Linked DNA regions of Homo sapiens: region 2 is linked to region 1. A link means that fine-mapping ties the variant in region 1 to the expression of a gene that starts in the linked region. Tissue or cell type: whole blood. Region 1 holds a variant in brackets; the other region holds the start of a gene. All regions are shown on one strand. Distances are from middle to middle.

Region 1 (8,000 bases):
ATAATAATTTAAAAAAGGAATTCAAGCAGACAGATTATTGGTAGCAGGAGGCTGGAGTATACTAAGCAAGAGGACAAACAGTCACTCCAAATATCCTTCTTAACTGAGTTTGATGCCAGCAAAGCTCAACTACAAATTCAGAGGACCAGAGATGTCACTCTAAAACGCCAAACATTGAACCAGTGAGACTGACTGGCAGCAGATGGGAACAGTCATTAAGGAACTAATTATTAAGAGGCCTGATGGCAAGCTGTGTTTGATGGGGGTGGGTGGGGACAACTGGGTTTTTAATGCTATGCCTTAAATAGTATCACTGCCTGGCTGGATTTTAGAGTAGAGTATTTTTATGTTTTGGATGTTTAACTTCTTTTTACATAATTTATACTAATAATAATTATTATTACGGTTAAGGTAATGATGCCAAGTCTGTAAGCAAGCAGTATTCTTTGAAAGTAACAAAGCTAGAGCATGATGCAGAACAGGCAAAAGTCGAACTGATTGAAACACAAAAGCAGCTACAGGAGCTGGAAAACAAAGATCTTTCTGATGTTGCAATGAAGGTAAAATTACAGAAAGAGTTTCGTAAAAAGATGGATGCTGCAAAGCTGAGAGTTCAGGTAATTTAAAAAATGTAATTGAGAAAACTTATTTAAGCTTTCTTGCTTCTGAGGATTCTTGTACTGAGTTAGGAAAGAAGTGGGATTCAGTTTATACCAGCAAGAGAAACTGGGTATCAACTTTTCTTTTGTAGTGTGCTGGTCGATTTACATATTTTACAATCTGGGTAGTATATTTCTTAATTCAAGAAGTATCTTCTTTCAATCATCATATCAAAAAACCACATGGTAAGAAATAAACGTAACCACGAAACAGTGTTTATTTCTGAAGGACAAAGGATTAAATAATGATTAAATAATACAAATAAAACAGCTGGTACATATATGACACTTTGTAGACACTCAACAAATGGGAACTATTTCGAGATATGGTTTTCCCAAACCATAACTGATTGGCTTAAGAAAGGTTAATAACTTTGTGTACTGCAACTCATCCTTAACTTCCTAATGCCTGGTTTTAGCTTTAACTTTAGAAATAGCTACAGTTAAAAATTCTATTCTATGAGAAATATTCCATCACATGGAGATTTTGTGTGATGAAGCCATTTCCAGGTGCTTTGGAGATAGTCACAGTGCTTTGTTAGTCTGATCATAATGAACTTTCTAGGATGTGTCCTCTATTTCTTTATCTCTCATGGTCTACTGCTTTCTTTCATGTTATAGAAACATTTTTATATTTTTCCATTTTAGGTAGAGTTGTAATTAACCTATTCACAGCATTATTATTATTATTATTATTGAACTATGCCACAGTTATTTGCTTTAAACAAAATAGATGTTTACAATATACCTCTGGTGTGCCCGGTATATTGTAATATACCAGTATATTCTGGTGTGACAGGCCTGAAAAGTCCCTCCTGGGGTTTCTGATGCCACCTCAAACATCTGGATATTTCCACTAAAAATTGTTACCTAAATAGTTTCTCAAGTCAACATCAAGTTAAAATAATATGACTTGAATATTTGAACTGCTTAAAGGAGGACATAGGGTGGTTATCTATGTCACACCTTCCATTTTCCTTCAGCATAGTTATTTCCACTTTGGAATTCACCTTTCCATGCTTTGCTTCCTGCTGTATATCCTTTTCTGCTAAGAGTACTGATAAGGAAAGAAAATGAAAGGTGTAGAACTTTACCTCAAAAGAAACATCTGATACAGCAGAGGACAGAAAGAAGACATAGTTTTAGAAATTTTGTACCTTTGACATATCCATGCACTACTCATGGGGATAAGGATGATAAGGAGGATGAGGAGGACAGTAGTTACCATTTGAGGGCCTATACATACCAAATGGTTTATACGCATTATTTAATCCTTTGAAGTGGGCATTTTTAGCCATTTTACAAATGTGGAAAGAAAGGTTTAGAAAGGTAAAATAACTCAGTCAGAGTCCCATAGTGGTGATGACAATACCGGTTTTCAGTTCTCTAACATATCATACTTTTTTTTTGAGGTGAAGTCTTGCTCTGTTGCCCAGGCTGGAGTGCAGTGGCATGATCTCAGCCCACTGCAGTTGCCTCCTCCCAGGCTCAAATGATCCTCTTGCCTCAGGCTCTCAAATAGCTGGGATTACAGGTGCCTGCCACCACACCCGCAAATTTTTGTATTTTTAGTAGAGACGCAGTTTCACCACATTGGACAGGCTGGTCTCAAACTCCTGACCTCAAGTGATCCACCCGTCTCGCCCTCAGAAAGTGCTGGGATTACAGGTGTGAGTCACCACACCCAGCCATATCATGCTGTTTTAAAATATTGAAATACTAGTATTATTATTGGTATAAAACAGTTATTTCAATTTTTAAAACAAAACATTTTTAAATTAAAAACTTCTAAAACCTATATTTTTAATGTCTTTAGGTATATGTAGAGCGTTACATGCTGCATTAATAGTTTAATGCTGACAGATGCACTTTTGAGCAACTATGAAATAAGTGCAAAAGACAATGGCAACAGTATCTCACTCTTAAGTAAGACTTTCAGGATGTACACTGATATTTTTAATATTATGTGAAAAAGACACTAAAATGCTGGTATTATAATTTTTGCTGCAGTATTGTAATTACTGTCAATTGTAAGTGGCAAAGCCAGTGTCCAAATTTAGGTACTGGAAATGGCAAAGGCCTGTGGCCTCCAAGCCAGTGGTACCCAAAGTAGTCCATCTGCCGATTGTTCTTGTTCTGTGATGAGATAAAGGTCAGTCATTGCACAGCTTCCTTGATCAAAAAAGTCTCACATGAAAACGTCAACCGAATCTAACAGTATGCTGAGGAGTGCAAATTGACAACAATGTCTGTGAACTAGCACTGGTCCACAGATCACATTTTGAGTAGCACTGCTCTAAGCAGCAGTGCCTCTTGGATACTTAGTTTAATTAAAACAAAACTTGCCTATGCTAACACTTTATTGCCAAAATAAAGGAAATAATTAATTGTGGTCTGCATAATTTATGAATGACATCCCTTTACCTTTTTTATGCCACCTAATTGGTATTTAGTGCAATGCTAATCACATTATACAAGTTTAATACATGTTTGTTTGGTCAGGACTAAATTGTAACACAAGTATTTTATATTAGTGGTGTGAACACTTTGAAAGTCTAATGCTATCTGTACGTAATTTTAGTTAGATGAGAAGGAATTTAAGATAAATGTTAAAATAGTAATTATAATGGTTGGTCACTCTCAGGGAAGATGTTATCAGCTCTGATCATCCTAACTCAGGGATTAACGATTTAGGCTATAGCTGTAGCTATAAAAACAAGAGCACAGTAGAATGCTGTGCAGCCACCTGGAACAAATCTATATGAAAAGACCTCTGAGATAAGTAGGAAAAAAGGGAGACAGTAGTCTATATAGAATACATATGCAGCTATTTGCATGCATATGCATTGCATACATTTTTTTCTGGAAGAATATTTAAGAAATTGATAATTTTGTGTTGGGAAGCAGGACAGGTAGATTAGGGGTATATGATAAGAGTGACTCTTAAAATATAAATTCAGTTTTATACTGTTTTAACTATTTTTTAAATTAAAATACTTATTAATGAAAAGCAAATCATCTGTTTCATTTGTTTGTTGTCCACATCAGGAAGTCTCATGATTCTTTATACTTTTACATATGTGATGCAAATTATGATGGTTTCCCTAATTGCAAAAATGGAAATGTATGATAGTAAGCAATTGTTTGTAAACCTGTCAAAAATAAATGAAAATCTAGGGAAAATTTCTTCTTTTACCATCAAATGAAAAGATTAAGTTTAGTTGAGGATTGTGAGAGATTCAGTTTTTCATTTTGAAATATTCCATATGATCTCAGGTCTTGCAGAAGAAGCAACAAGATAGTAAGAAACTGGCATCACTGTCAATCCAAAATGAGAAACGTGCTAATGAGCTAGAGCAGAGTGTAGATCACATGAAATATCAAAAGATACAGCTACAAAGAAAACTACGAGAAGAAAATGAAAAAAGGAAGCAACTGGATGCAGTAATTAAGCGGGACCAGCAAAAAATCAAAGTAATATTGTCATACATTCCTGCTAAGTATAATATGAAATGTTAAACGGCTCAGAGCTAACGAATCCATGGTCTTCATTCAGTTGGCTTGTGAAGTATCTATCCTTGACCTGCCCTTCACTGCTGTCCTTATTCACTTTAAAGCTTTGTTCATCTACGTAGTAAAACCTACTTATTGAATTTTGAGTACTGTCTTGAAGGCTTTGACTTCACAAAAGAAGGTACAATGATAATTTCTCTTAGTAGGATCCTAACTTTAATTGAAGCTGTCAAAAACATACATTTATAAAGCCAACTTTCTAAATAATACCTATCATTTGAATAGGATTTTCTGTTTTCAAAGTGCTTTGACATGCGTTGTCCATGTGGCTACACAGAAAAAGTACCAGGTAAAGTGGTACCATTTCATTCACAGTGAGCAGAAAAATGATCAGACCTGTATGCACAGCAGTTCTAGAATAGATTGGGCTGGGGAAGAACTTAGTGGTGTCAGCCTAGGCTCTTTG[A/G]CCAGGCTATCATAGGTTCAAATCCTAGCTCACTCAGTTGCTGGCTGAGAGATTTATTGAGAAAATAAATTTTCTCAAATTTCTCAAAAATTTTACCCTCTCTGAGTCTGTTTATTCTCATCTAAAATGGCCTTAATCCTACTTGTCCCACAGGGCTTTTTTGAAAAAGATGATGATGATCATAATAACAGACACTTATCTAGTACTATGTGCCAGGCTCTGTTCCGTTGAAATGTTAAGCTGAACCCAAGGCATGGGACATAATTGGAGATTTCCTAGATATTTTAAAAATTAAGATTTTATTTTTTTAGAGCCGTTTTAGGTTCACAGCAAAATTGAAAGGAAGGTGCAGAGATATGCCATATACTCCCTGTCCCTGCACATGTTTAGCCTCTCCTGTTATCAGTATGCCCCAGATTTCCTAGATTTTCAACAATGGATATAACCTATTTTCCGACCTTAAAAAAAAAAATCACAGAATTCAGCAATGGAAGGGAACTTAAAGAGCATTTAAACCAAGTTACTCATTATTTATTATTAATTTTTAAGTTGTGGTAAAATATATATAACATAAAATTTACCATTTTAACTTTTTTTCCTTTTTTTTTTTTTTGAGATGGAGTTTCACTCTTGTTGCCCAGGCTGGAGTGCAATGGTGTGATCTCGGCTCAACACAACCTCCGCCTCCTGGGTTCAAGTGATTCTCCTGCCTCAGCCTCCTGAGTAGCTGGGATTACAGGCGTGCACCACCACGCCCGGCTAATTTTGTATTTTTAGTAGAGATGGGGTTTCTCCATGTTGGTCAGGCTGGTCTTGAACTCCCGACCTCAGGTGATCTGCCCGCCTCAGCCTCCCAAAGTGCTGGGATTACAGGTGTGAGCCACCGTGCCCAACCCATTTTAACTGTTTTTTAAGTGTATAATTCAGTGGCATTAATTACATTCACAATCTTGTGCAACCATCACCACTATCTATTTCCAAAACATTTTCATCACTCCAGACAGACACTCTGTAATATTATGGAATAGCTCCTCATTTTCCCCTTCCCCCAGCTCTTGGTAATCTCTAATCTACTTTCTATATGAATTTGCTTATTCTAGATACTTCATATAAGTAGAATTATATAATATTTTACCTTCTGTGTCAGCCTTATTTCATTTAGCATAATATTTTCAAGGTTTGTCTACATTGCAGCATGTACAAGAACTTCATTCCCTTTTATTGCCAAGTAATATTCCATTGTATGGATATGCCACAGTTCTTTATCCATTCATCCATCAATGGACACTTGAGTTGTTTCTACCATTTGGCTATTGTGAATAATGCTGCAGTGAACACTGGCATACAAATAAGTCTCTGTTTTCAATTCCTTTGGGTATGTACCTAGGAGTATGTACCTAGGAGTAGAATTTCTGGGTTATATGGTAAATCTGTGCTTAGCTTTCTGAGAAACCACTGTTCTCCATAGCAGCAGCATCATTTTACATTTCCACCAGCAATGTGTGAATGTTCTAATTTCTCCTCACTTTTGTCAACACCTGTTTCTTTCCTTTTTTTAATTATAGTCATCTGAGTAGGTATGAAGTTGTATCGTTGTATCTCTTTTTTTTTTTTTTTTTTTTTTTTTTTTGAGACAGAGTCTCTCTGTTGCCCAGGCTGGAGTGCAGTGGCGTGATCTCGGCTCACTGCAAGCTCCGCCTCCTGAGTTCACGCCATTCTCCTGCCTCAGCCTCCCGAGTAGCTGGGACTACAGGCACCCGCCACCACGCCCGGCTAATTTTTTGTATTTTTAGTAGAGACGGGTTTTCACTGTGTTAGCCAGGATGGATGAAGTTGTATCTCATTGTGGTTTTGGTTTGCATTTCCCTAATGACTAATGATGTTGAGCATCTTTTCATGTGCTTATTGGCTGTTCATAAATCTTCTTTGGAGAAATGTCTATTCAAGTTCTTTGTCCACATTTTAATTTGGTTCTTTGTCTTTGTTGTTGAGTTGTATGAGTTCTTTACATATTCTGACATTAAATTCTATCAGATACGTGATTTCCAAATATTTTTTCCTATTCTGTAGGTTTTCTTTTTACTTTGATAATATCCTTTGATATGCAAAAATTTTTAGTTTTGTTGAAGTCCAATTTATCTATTTTTTTCTTCTGTTGCTTGTGCTTTTTGGTGTCATGTCTAAGAATCCATTGCCTAAATCCAAGGTCATGAAGATTTATGTTTTCTGCTAAGAGTTTTATGGTTTTTGCTTTTATATTTAGGTCATTGGTCCATTTGGGGTCAGTTTTTGTATATGGTGTGAAGTAGTGGTCCACATTTATTCTTTTGCATGTGGAACTCCAGTTGTACCAGTACCATCTGTTGAAGAGACTGTTCTTTCCTCCATTGAATGGACTTGGCACCCTTATCAAAAATCAGCTGGAGTGGGAAATAGGGAAATGCTGATGGGGAAACGGGGAGATGTTGGTCAAATGGTACAAAGTTGCAGTTATGTAGAATAAATAAGTCTAGAGACTTAGTGTACAGCATGATGACTATTGTATACTGGAAATTTGCTAAGAGAATGGATTTCAGGTACTCTTACCACAAAAAAAAAGCCAAAATGCTAACTATGTGAAGAGATAAATATGTTAGCTTGACTATAGTAATCATTTCACTATGTATATCAAAACATCATGTTGTATACCTTACATATGTACAATTTTGTTTTTTTGAGACAGGGTCTCACTCTGTCACCCAGGCTGAAGTGCGGTGCCATGATCATAGCCCACTGCAGCCTCCAATTCCTGGGCTCAAGTGATCCACCTGCCTTAGCCTCCTAAGCAGTGGGACTACAGACGCACACCACCACACCTGGCTAATTTTTTTCCCTACTTTTTATAGACAGTGTCTTGCTATATTTCCCAGGCTGGTTTTGAACTCCTGGCTTCAAGTGATCCTCTGGTCTTGGCCTCCCAAAGTATTGGGATTACAGACCTGAGCCACCATGCTTGGCCCCAATTTTTATTTTTAAAAAATCAACTGGCCATAGATATATGGTTACTAAACTCTCAGTTCTATTCCATAGGTCTATATGTCTATCCTCATGCTAGTATCACACTATTTTGATTACTGTAGGTTTGTATTAAGTCTTGAAATTGGGAAGTAAGTCCTCCCACCTTGCTCTTCTTTTTCAAGATGATTTTGGCTCTTCAGAGCCCCTACAGTTTTCCATGTGAATTTGAGGATGGGCCTTTCCATTTCTGCAAAAAAGGCCATTGGAATTTTGATAAGGATTGTTGAATCTCTAGATTGCTCTGAGTAGTATTGACATCTTGACAATATTAAATTTTCTTATCCACGAGCATGGGAAGTCTTTCC
Region 2 (8,111 bases), 99 kb before region 1:
AGCTATGAAATCTTTAAAGAAACCATTTTTAAGAATTATTTAATGACAAAGAAATACATTCACATTTTGTTGGGAAAAAGAACACATATAAAATTACATACAGCTTAATCCCCATTAATTTTATAATCAGGAAAAAACATTTTTAAGAAAGCTGATTAGCATTGTATGAATGATAAACTTGGCTGACCACACTAATCTGCATTCTAGATCTGTACTGCCAGGAACTGAACAAAAGAAAATAAAGTGGGAAAATTTTATCACCTACCACGAAGGTCTAGGCATATTTGATTTACAGATTAATTTTCAGTCAGCCTCATATATTCCAATTTTTTTTTAATAAAAAGCGAGGCAGGAGTGTCATCCTTTTGGACCTTACGTGTGTCATTCTGACAATAGCTGAGACTTAAAAGCACTAACGAATATTTAAATCTACTCCACAGTTCCATTATCTTCATCTAAACAATAAAGGTAAGTCTACATTTTAATTCATTGAGGATGAGTTCAAGGTAATCCTGGAATTTTTGAGAAGATACTCCGAAAATTAGGGAGGAAAAATTTATACCGTATATGACTGAAATTAGAAGAAGTAATCAGAGGAGATTTTTATGGATCCTCCATAACCTAAAGTAAGGAAAAGACAGAAAGAGAATCTGGAACCCCATTTTGCTATGTGACCTTGGATATGTTCCTTAGCTTCTCTTAGTGCTAGTTCATTCGTTCACAAAACAAAGATAACTAACAACTTGCTCAAAGAACTCTAAAAAGTATTAAACTGCCAGCACAACGTTTAGCACACAGTGGGGAACTCAGGAAATAGTAGTTATAAATACTATTTTAAACAATAATGCAGCTGGATAGTGTACATTCTCAATTATATTAGCCCATCTAAAGTAAATCCCCCATCTAAGTAATATTGGGTCTAAATTCACTGAGTCCAAAGTGATCACTACACCATTACACCATTGTACCAATTACACAAGACTGGAGTCAATGAATGTATTGTTAAGTTCTTGAATGAACACAGGTATAAAATTATTGGGTTGAAAAGTCTTAATTTCAAACAGAGAATAAAAGGATGGAGAAAAAAGACTTTCCTGTTATTTAAAGAGCAAACCTAAAAATTAAAAAGACGTAAAGAAGAAATCAAATGGGGGGAAAAATAGCAACCATCCCACAATGGCATCTAGAGGGGATGAATAATTTACACCAGTCGGGGTCCAGTCTGGACAATGAAACTGGGAGGAAGAGGTTTTTTTTTTTGTTTTTGTTTTTGTTTTTGAGACAGGGTCTCGCTCTGTCGCCCAGGCTGGAGTGCAGTGGCGCGATCTCGGCTCACTGCAAGATCAGCCTTCCGGGTTCACGCCATTCTCCTGCCTCGGCCTCCTGAGTAGCTGGGACTACAGGCTCCTGCAACCACACCCGGCTAATTTTTTTTTTTGTCTTTTTAGTAGAGACGGGGTTTCACAATGTTAGCCAGGATGGTCTCGATCTCCTGACCTTGTGGTCCGCCCGCCTCGGCCTCCCAAAGTGCTGGGATTACAGGCGTGAGCCACCGTGCCCGGCCGGAAGAGGTTCTTATATAGGGCTGCTTACTTGTGATTCCCACTCATCATTCCTTATCAAGAAAATGATGACTGCAACATAAATCCTAATTTGAAAGAAAGCACAGCATCATCATTACCGTACCGCTATTTGTGCATATTAGTGTCAGTGACATGTCTCAGGTTTTAAATGACAAACTCAATTAAATGTTGCAAATACTAACTGGCGGATTAAATCTCTATAATCCAAGTATCCTAAGCCCCTACATAAACTCATCAGTTTTGAATATTTAATAAAATTCTGAACTTTGTGTTTTAGAACTGAAATGCGAGTTAAGTTTTACCTACCCAACAAGACTATACACTCTTCATGGTGGGGACCATTTAAAAAATTATATTATCACTTAAAGAGAACTTTTATAAATTCCACAATCCCGGACATTATGTTCTAACAGCATGTGTTAACGTATCCTCCCAGAATGTAAATACTGGTGTTTGTCATGAAATCCTCAGTGCGCCCTAACAAGAGTTTTCCTCTAATCAGTCAAGTAAAAGATGCTGGGTGGATGCAATCATGGCCATTTAAAAGAATGCTGGTATATATGTTTTGCAAATTACCCAAGAAGGAAACATTATAACAGGAATGAATCAGCACAAATTCATCAACACTAAAATATATGCATGTATTCGGCCAATGGTGGATTTCGCTTTATGTGCAGATTATGACACCTTTATGCTTCAAAATGAGTTTGGGATTGTGGGCGGAGGCTGGAAGGTTGACGAGTAAGGATGTGGAAAGCGGGTACTACCAGGGCTGGAGATTTCCCAGGGCTGTCACCGATTGAAAGTGACCTTATGTGCCTTAACAAAGGAAGTCATGAAAGCTTGGCACAGGAGCCTTAAAAGTAAGGAACCGAATACAATGCAAGTGTGCGCTGAACCCGCTAGAACAGGAGCACGTTTGAGGGCAAGGGTTTTTGTCTGTTTTCATCACTGCCACAAGGCAGGCGCTTTGAATGGAACGTGGAGGTCTGCAACGTATTCAGCGATACGCATTCATTTTAGGAGACAAGGGCAATACATATTGCCTAAAAATTTTATCGGAATAAACTACAGCGACGACACTACAAAATACTTCCATCTCAGGTCCCATTACCCAAGAGGAAAGTCTCAGAACCGAGAGCCCTGTGAAACCGCCTGTGCCCTCTCGGCGAGAAGTTCTCCAGTACTCCCAGGCTCGCCCCGCGTTTCCCCGGCTCCCGCCCCGGCGCAAGGCAGGCCGAGAACCGCCAGCTGCGCCCCCGGGCCCGGCCTTGACTGACGGGCGCCCCGGACCATTACAAACAACGGGTTTCCGAAGCGTGGGCCCGGCCCAGCGGACGCAGACGGCCCGCACTTACCGCGCCGCAGCTCGTCCCACAGCCCACAGACCACAGCCCGGGGCGGGGTAAGGGGCTTCGGGCACGAGTGTGGGCTGTGAAAACACGGGCATAAGTCTGGGCCGAGCACCGACCTGGGCGTCCCGCATTTTCCTCGCGCAACATCGGTCCCTGGGCAGCGCAACTGTAAGGACAGGAACCGCCGCGGCGCGCTCCCAGTTCCTTTTTTACCTCTTCCCGCCCGATTTGCCGCGCGCTCGCGCCCCTCCTCCAACCCCAAAGGACTCCTTCGGGGCTGGAAAACGCCCCTTCCCCGCCCCCTCCCTGTGCGCGTGAACTAGGCAGTTGTTAGATCTCGCGAGAGGTTCGCCCCCTAGCCGCCCCTCCCCCCAGCTAGTGAGTGCGCGAACGAGAAAGGAGGAGGGCGCTCCAGGCGACAGCACTGCAGACGCCATTATCCTCTGTTTCTCTGCTGCACCGACCTCGACGTCTTGCCTGTGTCCCACTTGTTCGCGGCCTATAGGTAATTGGAGTTATTGGAGCTTGGGTATTGCTGATTCGGGTAAGGGTTGGGGCTCCCTGAAAGGCTGCGTTTACTTTTCCCAAGCCCGGGTTTTCTCGAGCCCTTAGTGGCCTCCCAGCCCGAAGGGAGGCGCTGGCGGGAGGCGGGGTTGTCGCCTCCTCCGTCGCCTTGATTGACGTGGCCTCGGGCCAATCGCTTCGCCCTCGCACCATCGCTGAAGCCCTGGCAGCCAATAGGGCGCGACGGCGGGGAGGACGCGAGAAGGCGGGGGAGGGGAGCCTGCGCTCGTTTTCTGTCTAGCTCCGACCGGCTGAGGCGGCGCGGCAGCGGAGGGACGGCAGTCTCGCGCGGTGAGGAGCCGGGTTGGGGGAGCGGCTCGTGGAGGTGAGGGTCGGAGCCCAGTTTTTCCGCTTGAGGGAGGCGTCCTGGGAGCCGCTTTGGTGTTTGGCCGCTTCTCCGAGTGGGAACGTTGCCCGGTGTCCCCTCCCCCACCTCCGCCATTTCCCTGAGCGTGTATCCGCAGTCCGCGTTGTGGTCCTAGAGACTTGGGGATTCGTGAGGCATGTGCCTCTAGGATGAGCTGGAGCTATGTGGCACTGGGAACTAGGGACCTCGTGGAGGAAAGGAGGCCGGTGCGGGGAGAAGGTCGCGCCGCCGCTCTCTTTGTGTGAGCCCCGCCTCACCTTGGGTCTCCCGGCCCGGGGTCGGAGCTGGAGCGGCGGGGATGGAACGGTCAGGGCTGCCTCGATGGCTTTGTCTCGGGCAGTGGGGGGAGGATGCGGGGGATGAGACCTCGGGACCGCGTGGTGGGTGGGGGAGGGGGTCGGCGCTCGGCTCCGCCTAGTAGCACGTAGTCGCCATTACGCGGGCCGCCATTTCCTGTCGGATCCGGGTGAGGAGAGGTGCGGTGCTTCTGCTGTCGACTTTCGCTTTTTCCCGTCCTGTTACCCGGCTGTTTTTGATCTCGGTGCCGGGAGGCGGGGAGGGGAGGGCGCGTTGGCGCTCGGCCAGTGGAGCACATACTTAGCGGATTTTTGAGGCCTGGGGACTAGTGACTGCAGGACCCGAAGGGTGAACGGCAAGCGGCAACGTTATTCTTACAGATAAGCCCTGCTGTTTTTGCTTAAACTTTCTTATCCAACTCTTCTCCCACCACACCTCAGAAATTGCGTGCTGGGCCGGAAGGATGTCGTTTCAGTTGTCGTTAGGAGAGCAATAAGTCGACCAACGGTATGGGAGAATGGGAGGCATAAATGTGCCTCGCTTGTTGGCTCTTTGCTGTCTAGCCAACCTTCTAGTAGAGGCCGCTTGTCAACTCCTAGTCCCGACAAGAGGGAAGCTTAAAAAGGCTGTTTGTAGTCCTATCGACCGTTTTGGCACGTAGACACTTTAGTTTTCGTGTTACAGGCATGATTGTTGTGTTGTACTCCCTTAAGCCTAATTTAAAATAATCCGCTAGTGACTGTTAGTTTTCAAGGGCTCCATTTGTTTCGCTGATTAATAATAGACTGGTATTGTGGTAGTTTGGGTCTGGTCCTATATTAGATTTTTGGATTTATCCCTCCGGTAGATTGTTCTGGTTGTTGGATGTGTTCGCAATTGCCGTTGTATTTGTAAACTTTAGAGATGTCACATAAGATCGCTTCAAGCATGAGTCGAAAGAAATAGGAAAGCAATTGGAAGTTTTAATATAAAATTAGTTTTCCCAGTGAATAAGATGCATTGTAACTTTTCATAAATGTATGCTTTGTGGATGACATTTATCTTTTCAGGGTTTTGGGAATGTGCCGTATAAAACAATTCATTGCTGTGGTGGGACTTAATCCAGTGGCTAAAAGTTATTGTTCTAACTTAGCAAAAAATGAAACCAGGCTCCCTTGAATTTTGTATTTTTTAGGCAGTCATTTGAATTGTGAAACCCTAAAATGAAGAATCAAGTTTTAGAAACAGCTGGTTTTTTGGGTTCAAATCAGTATTCACTGTGATCGGAAACAAATATTCAGTAATAAGAATAAACAAAAGCAAAACTGATTTGTGTTGGTTCTTATAGGCTACTGCAGCACTGGGGTGTCAGTTGTTGGTCCGACCCAGAACGCTTCAGTTCTGCTCTGCAAGGATATATAATAACTGGTACGTTCTAGAAGCAATGTCTTTTTTTTTTTTTTTTTTTTACAGCTTGCTTTCCAATAAGCCAAATGTACTAGCTGCTTTATTTTTCCACAGATTGGTGTGCCCGTTTAATAAAAGAATATGGAAACTGAACAGCCAGAAGAAACCTTCCCTAACACTGAAACCAATGGTGAATTTGGTGAGAAGAAATTTTAGTTTTAACAGTATTTTTTTATCCTGTTAATAAATTGCCTTTTTCTGTTAATTATTGCCTTAGGAGTGTGTGGTGAATTTTTGGTATTACTGTTTATGTAATTCTGCGATTATCAGTAGTTACATCTTAGCTTTTATTTATGAAGTAGAAGTAACTGATTTGCATATAAAGAATTTTTCTTGCATTTTGGGATTTCAAATCCTTTGAAGTATTTTGTGGCAGTATTTTGTGTTTGGTGCATTTTACTAGATGGAAGCATAACGTTCAAGTCTGTAGCAATGCCTTTGGTCTTTTCAAAACATGCCTAAGATTAGCAACAAGTCTCTTGAAACAGAATGGAGTTACTTTGGAGACTTCGCTGCTTTCTTTGAAATGTGAACTGTTAATTTTTAGGTAAACGCCCTGCAGAAGATATGGAAGAGGAACAAGCATTTAAAAGATCTAGAAACACTGATGAGATGGTTGAATTACGCATTCTGCTTCAGAGCAAGGTATAAATTTTATTCTTGAAAATTTGAAGGTGGTTCATACTCAGGTAGAAATTAAGGTCTGGTTTGGCTTTCTAGAAAGTCAAAGTTTTACAGATTGAAGAATATAAAACATTTGGTTCTTTCTAAACAGACTTGAAGGCTCTGGTGGTTTTCTTATTCCACTAACAGTTAAGATTAAAGCCCTTGCTGTAGTGAACCGCCACTACAGGTCAAACTAGGAGGAGAGTGTGATTCTTAAAGTGTTAATAGATTAAATCTTAATTATGTGTGGACTCCTTAGGAAACTGCTTGGTTGGCAGTTTATTGTTTGATCACAGGTCACAATATGAAGGTACCTACTAATACTAAATTAATTGACTTATTTTACCAAAGGGTGCTATAAAATCTGTGCTTAGTTTTATTTTATACTTGGTGTTATTTCTGACATTGAGTACTCCAAACTATCTAGTCCTCACAGCACTTAGAATTATATTTTGATTTTTGGTTTGGTTTTGGCCTGGTCGTTTTTACAACCCCAAATAGATTTTTATTCTTATAACAAACAGGTTAGAGGATTTTTTAGCAAAATCTAAGAGCGTAGGTAGCTATTAATTTTAGGGAAAGGCAAAATAATTTTTTGTCTTTGTATCTTCTCCAGAATGCTGGGGCAGTGATTGGAAAAGGAGGCAAGAATATTAAGGCTCTCCGTACAGACGTAAGTATTAAGAGTTTAAACTACTACACGAGCAGCTTCAGTTTATATGTCTATAGAAATTTAAAGATTTACATCCTAGAAATCATTTCATAGTTTAGCTACAAAGACATTTGTAATAATTTATTATTACAGAATTGATTTCGAAGTTATCCATTCCTGTTTTAACAAAAGCCCAGATTGAGCAGGGTGGGGGGGTGGTTTCTTTCAAACCTCTTCACATTTTAATAAGAGTCCACCAAATTATTCACTTCATCAAGCAAGATAACATCTTAATTAGAAATAGCGACAAAGTGTAAAAATCCTTGATTGCACCATTTCCTGTGTGTGAATCAATTACAGTATTACTGAAAACCATTGCAGGTGGCTGGTTAAATCCAGAAAAATTTTTTTGTTTTCTTTGGGAAGAAAAATGTCCATCTGTTCTTTAACAGCTTGCACATGGAGCACAAAGAATTTAATGTTGAGGTTGCATGATTTAAATATGGGTAAAGAATAGAGTAGGCACTTAATCTTATAATTGGGAAACTGTTCGTCAATGCCTATGATTTGTTTGAGTCTTCATTTTACAGTGGGTTGACTCTTGTGATTAGACACATTAAATGTTGGCAGTGCCAGAAGTGAGCACATTTATAGGACTTGGCTACACCAAAATTTCTAAATTTTTTTTCTCATAGTGTACACATTTCTTAATGTTTTTCTTGCTAAAAATGAGGCAAATAACTTTGTGTCGAGTACTTATTTGACAGTATTTCATTTCTCTCTTGGTCGCAGATCTTTGTATGTTCCTCTTGATTACTGTAAACTGAACTTGAAAATTTGTTTAAAATTTTACAAACTTGCCTGTTAGGATCTAGGAATGCATTTCAAAACCTCCAGAAAACCAAACCAGTCTTATTAGTTAGGGTTTTTGGTGGTGTGGGAATTTTTGTTTTGTCTTTTATAAACCTCTCTCCTCTTAATCCAGATGTTCTGTATAATTATCTGGGTTATTAATTTCCCCATTTCCTCAAGAATTTCAGTAAACTTTGAGTCAGGTTTTGTGTCTACCCTCATGAGCCAGCCTGCTACTGAAACATCGTTTGTTTTTCTTAAAAAATAAAAAAGGCTAGAACCATCATTTGAGGTCCTTAATGTTAAGCCACAGTCAGATTTAGAGAAGT

What was found. PIP is the estimated chance that this variant, and not a neighbour inherited with it, causes the effect.
Region 2: it holds the start of RMI1, and the variant in region 1 is fine-mapped to the expression of RMI1 in whole blood (TOPMed, PIP above 0.99).

Annotation. Positions count from the first base shown.
Region 1 is chr9:83,876,430-83,884,429 of GRCh38, reverse strand. KIF27 (kinesin family member 27) reads left to right here. Exons shown (of 18, transcript NM_017576.4): 10 at 412-617; 11 at 3,936-4,133. Among named protein-coding and RNA genes, the nearest start is that of KIF27, 41 kb to the left of the region's middle. The variant A/G (reference allele first, on the strand shown) is at 4,639.
Region 2 is chr9:83,975,835-83,983,945 of GRCh38, reverse strand. It overlaps RMI1 (RecQ mediated genome instability 1), which reads right to left and starts at 3,141. Exons shown (of 3, transcript NM_001358291.2): 1 at 3,055-3,141. It overlaps HNRNPK (heterogeneous nuclear ribonucleoprotein K), which reads left to right and starts at 3,731. Exons shown (of 17, transcript NM_031263.4): 1 at 3,731-3,793; 2 at 5,494-5,573; 3 at 5,667-5,751; 4 at 6,160-6,257; 5 at 6,895-6,951. The coding sequence starts at 5,694. RefSeq lists silencers at 2,728-2,807, 3,618-3,757 and enhancers at 2,452-2,960, 3,018-3,107, 3,128-3,197, 3,328-3,387, 2,961-3,468 and 2 more.